2 separate regions of the Homo sapiens genome follow, and region 2 is linked to region 1. The links come from fine-mapping of genetic effects on gene expression. Tissue or cell type: whole blood. Region 1 holds a variant in brackets; the other region holds the start of a gene. All regions are shown on one strand. Distances are between the middles of the regions.

Region 1 (2,685 bases):
CCAGTTTCAAGTATTTTTTTTATAGCAGTGTGAGAATAGACTAATACAGACAGATTCTACTGGAGCTCAATCTCTCTTAGAGTAGAGGAGGGAACCAAGCTGGTGGACAAACCATTGCCATCTACAATAGATGAGTGCAACACATTCTAAGGGGCTGCAAAACACTATTGCTATATTTGGAAGGAGAAATAAAAGATAATGCCAAAACTACAGAGCAGAACCTTGTGGAAATTCTGAGCTTGTTGGAAATTCTGAGCCTTGTAGAATTCTTAGCTTGTTGGTGACCAGGCTTTCTTGGGCCATGGTGTGCAAGATCTTTTGGGGTGAACTCTTAGAAGGGTGCCAACTGCTAAGGGTGCCATAGCTTATACACTGTGGGGCTCAGTGTCTACTGGTAGCAACAATGGCAGCAGTGATAACAATACTAGTAGCTAACAGTGGCAGATGCCCTCCTCCTTTCTTCCTATTTCTCTTGCCATTCCTGACTCTTGCACAGGATGATCTTTTTCTGTCCAATAGACATAAATAACCTCAATAGATATAAATACACTTCAAAGCATAGATAATAACAAGAGTAGTAAAGTAATAGGGGAAGGGATAACTTTGGGGTATTTATCACCTATGTATTTAATTTAATTTACTTAATTTTGAGTTTAGTTTGATTTTTACTGATGGCTGTGTTTAACAAACACTGACCAAAAGGCCTGAAAATGTAACAGCTGGCCCTTATGAGCAGGTTCATGACTGGAGGACAGCTGAAAGAATCAGGTACTGGATATTTATGAAAAATGGGTGTTAGAGTTACCAATGTGGATAGGTTTGCTAGGCAAGGAAATAAAATGACTTTTATTCAGTCATTCCAAATTGAAGAGAGAAGAGAAAATGATACAGTTTATTTCCATGAAAGCTGTTAGGTTAGTGGCAATCTAGAATTATTTCTTAAGATCTGTCATTGTCTTCATAGCTCCCTTTTTTTTTCTCCCTCACAGGTTTTCTCAATAGTTTTTTTTAAAAAAGCTTTATTGAGATATAATTCATATACCATAAATTCACCCATTTTAAGTGTGCAATTAAATGGTTTTTCATATCTCCTTTAACTGACCTTCCTTGGAAGCTTCTCTCATTTTTTTTCCTCCTCAGGGAGAAAATGGAGCAGATCACCATGTTGATTTCCTGTCTTAAAGATTACAACTACTTGATCATATTACATAATATTACATTCTGTAGTAACTTTGTTCAGGATAATTAAAACAAATATTTGCAGCAAAGTGGATTCCTCCTAGATAAGCCTCAAGCTGAAGGGAGAGAGCCCCTGACAGTAGAATGCCAGGTTATCAGTGCAGTATTTGGTATTAGTCTTCACATAACTTCAAGGTGTCTCTGAGACCACACTCTTAACATTGATTGGGTTTCAGGCACTGTTTTCCACCACCCTTTTTCCCCCCCC[A/CA]GCTTATGGTGGGGAGACCAAATAAACCATGAAGATAGGAAATAGAACTGAAATTCACTATGGACTTTTATGTTAATGTCTTTATATAAATTATAATTAATAAAATTACTGATGCCAGTGGCTGCTGTCATCACACTGGTTGCAGCAGGGGCTGTACACTCCATAGAACTGGCGGAATCCCTGCCTTTTCTGAGTTGGGGCAGGAGCTCCCTGGGTGCAGCTGCAGCCTCCCAAAAAAAGGCTGCAGACCCAGGCCTTTTGCTCTATGGAGCAGGCAGAAGACACGCCCTCCTGGGCAGGGCTACAGCTGCCCATACAGAGGTTTCTGGATCCGAGCCTCCCTGTGCTCTTGGGGCAGGCTGGGAGCAGGCAGGATCTGCCCTCTGGGGTGCAGCTGAAATTGCCTGACCCTCAGCTGCAGACCTGGCCCTCCCACTCCATGGAGCAGGCAGGAGCTGGGGACAAGCGGGAGCCCTGCCCCTTCCTAGTTGGCAGGGCAGGGGCAGGAGCTCCCCAGGTGCAGCACCTGGGTATCTCTGCAGCCAGCATCATCAGGCCGGGAATGGCCCGCCTTCCCCTGCTGGCTCAGAAATGTCTGCTCCTGCTGCCTGGTGCCACCTCTTCTCTACCGGCAGCAACTCCAATCTCAGAGCAGGGTTGGGACCGAGCCCCAGGGGCATGAATGGCAGACAGATTCCTGGGTGGAAGTGGATGGGTCCCCAGTAAGGCTCCACTTTCAGGCCAGGGAGGGCCTGAAGGCTGGGGGCTGGGCTGCCAGTCCCCTGGACTGGAGTGGGGACTCATGGATCCTCTTCTGCTAGCCCATGGCCAACCATGGACCAACTGGCATTCACTTCCTCCCCTCTGAGGTCCATAAAAGCCCAGGGCTCAGCCAGAGCAGGGCAGAGGATGGCCAGAGGATGAAGAGGGCAGAGAGAGGACAAGATGACCAGCTGCAGAGAGGAGTACCCTCTCTGCTGATAGCTAGAGATGATGGAATGACCAGCATCAGAGAGGAGCTACCCTCTCTCTGAGAGCTGCAGAGACGACCTGCCTGCAAGAGGAACCATGCTCTCCCTCTCCAGGGTCTCTTCTTGGCTGAGGGCTGCAGATATTGGGATGACCAGTTGCAGAGACGAACTATCCTCTCCAGGGCTTCCTCTGCTGAGACCTGAACACTTGCTGGATGACCTGCCTACAGAGAGGAGCCCATCTTCATCTTGTTCACCTTTTACTTG
Region 2 (2,685 bases), 59 kb before region 1:
ATCATGAGAACATTTGAATGCTGGAGTCTGGAATTTGTTCAGCAGAGCGTGGGGAGCCATGGAAAACTTAAGTGGATATTTTTTAAATGTGTCAAAACTTACCCAGAGTTTTGACACAGAGAGGAAGACTTTGCCTGACCTTTGTATCTCCTTTCACCTGTGTATCTCCAGTACTCAAAGAGTTCCAGACACATAATAGGAGCTCACTGTATGAATTCAAGTGAAGAGAAGGTGCCCGGCTGGCATTGCAGCCAGGACAGGGCTTGTGGGTTTAGGTTGGGCAGTGAGGAAGTTGAATGAATGAACTTAAGGGGACATCTTTGGAGAAATTACACAAGATCTAAAAGCTATCTAGGATTATTTAAAAAACTTTGGGAGGCAATTTGACAATATACACCAAGGCATTTATAAATATTCCCATCATTTGATCCAGTAATTCTATGTGTGGGACTCTATGCTAAAGTAATAATCCTAAAGGAGGAAAAGTTTTATGCATAAAGAAGTTTTGCTTCATTATGCTATATGCTTCAAAAGCAATATTACAGTATTGCTTTTTAATAGAGAAGAAATGGACACAGTCTAACAATTGGGAAACAAGTTGTGTACCTTCTATCTGTGGGGGTATTTAATATGTTGTCATTAAAATTATTCTAAAGACAATGTAATACTACAGATAAATCCTTAAGTTTAAAAACGTGCAAAATTGAACATAGAATATTTTAAGTCATGGGAGTGTGCGAAGTGAAGGAGAAATCTCTCTCAGTTAAGTGTTTGTCCGGGAGTGGTAAAACACTTTTTCCTTCTTTTTATCTTTATCTTTCTGTGTATTTTCCAAATTTTACATAGTTACCTCATTTACTCAAATACTTATTAAGCATCCACTATGTGCCAGGCGCTGCTCTAGAGAATTGCGGGTAACAGTGAATAAAACACAACTCCTGTCCTCGAGCCATAACATTTACAAGATAAATCAACTAAATGTCATATGAGACGGTTAGTGCTCGGGGAAAAATAAGGCAAGGAAAGAGTAAAACTGATACTGCATTTACTTTTTTAAATGGAGGGGTAAGGTACTCCTCCAGGCAGAAGAACAGCAGGCTGAATTCGGAATTGCCCCAGCGGTAACAGAATGAAAGAGCTTGGGACACGCCAGCCTGTCAGCAACGTTGCAGCCGAGGCGGGGCGCGCGGGTTTAGGATGGGCGCGCGACAAGGTGAAGCGGATCACGTGACTCGAGGGGCGGGAGGAAGAGAGCAGAGTTTGGCCGGGCACCTTCCCTGCGAAAAGGCGGGCGGAGCCGAAAACCAAACAAACGACTTCTGAGAGATTGGGGGCGGGACTGACGGCGGCCGGCTTAGCTTCCAGAGCCAAGGCCTTCCGCCGAGTTGGTTTTTGGGTTGTTGATCGCGGTGGCCGGGCGGTCTGCGGTCGGGCTGAGACACGCGGAGCAATGGCGACCTTTGTGAGCGAGCTGGAGGCGGCCAAGAAGAACTTAAGCGAGGCCCTGGGGGACAACGTGAAACAGTAAGAGCTGCCCTAGCACAGCGTCCAGGCCAACACGCGGGTGCTCTCCTGGCCTCGGGCTGCCAGCCCGCCCCGGAGACGCCCGCGTCGCCCGGGGGCCTGTGCAGCCTGGAGTCCGCGGCGGCGGGGCTTCGGGGTTTCTCCGGCCGGGGCGGGGCGGGCCACCTGAACTCACCGCCCTGGAGAGACCGGGCCTCCTGGGCGCCCGGGAGACATCGGCGGGCGCCGTTGCTCGGGACTGTCTGCCCTGGGTGGGGCGGGAGAAGCGCACTTCGCACCCAAGGGCCTGCTGAGCAGGTGCGGGCCCCAGCGCGGGCGTGCGGGATGCGGGAGGCTGACTTGGGCGGAGTGAGCCGGAGCCCTACGCGTCCAGCCAGAGGGCATAGCGCAGGGCGGCCCGCCCCTGGAGGGCTTCCTGGAGGTGGAGGCCTGTTGAGCTGGTGTGATCTGCTACGGATTATTGGTAAGCTCTTTTGACAGCAATTTCGTAAGGCAGACGGACCCTCTGGTGAAATCACAGTCATTGAACACTACAATTATAGTGATGATAGCAGTAGCGGACATTTTAAACATTTTAAGCTCTCTAAATATATTATCTAATCCTTACAACAGATGTGAGATAGGTACAGTTGTTATTCCCATTTGACAGATGAGAAGACTGAGACCTAGTGCGGACAAGTAACTCTTCAAAAGTCACTGTCAGAGTTGGGACCCACGCTTTTGATTCCCGACTGATGCATTAGAGGGGCTGTAAAGGATCCCAGAGACGCTCAGCCAGACCTTCATCCAGGTTATGGCAGGGGACCTAGTGCACAGTCAGGTTAGGTGCAGAATGGCCAAGGGTAAAATCAGTATCCAGTCAAAGCCAAAGCCAAAGAGCAAAAAAGGAACCTCTGGGATACAAGGAAGAGTTTGGAAATTTTCAAAACGTTGTTATTACAACTTTATTTTTCAAAAATATAGGAAGCAAATATAAACGTTTAAAATTACAGTGCCTGTGTTGTTGCTGCTAGATGGCTTCTCTGGTATTCTACACATTTGCATTACTCAGTGGATGCATACTTTTAAATGATGTTGGTGGAGGAGCAATTTGGGAATACTTAATTTTTCTCCAATACTTTCTTTTCATCCTTCTCTGTTCTTTATTATTACTGGATTGAA

The links. PIP is the estimated chance that this variant, and not a neighbour inherited with it, causes the effect. A credible set is the group of variants that fine-mapping cannot tell apart.
Region 2: TADA1 starts here. The variant in region 1 is the best candidate, but not a certain one, in a credible set for the expression of TADA1 in whole blood (INTERVAL, PIP 0.62).

The regions. Positions count from the first base shown.
Region 1 is chr1:166,816,164-166,818,848 of GRCh38, reverse strand. No RefSeq gene overlaps it. Among named protein-coding and RNA genes, the nearest start is that of POGK, 22 kb to the left of the region's middle. The variant A/CA (reference allele first, on the strand shown) is at 1,448.
Region 2 is chr1:166,874,999-166,877,683 of GRCh38, reverse strand. It overlaps TADA1 (transcriptional adaptor 1), which reads left to right and starts at 1,420. Exons shown (of 8, transcript NM_053053.4): 1 at 1,420-1,524. The coding sequence starts at 1,451. RefSeq lists an enhancer at 1,034-1,083 and silencers at 1,484-1,533, 1,564-1,963.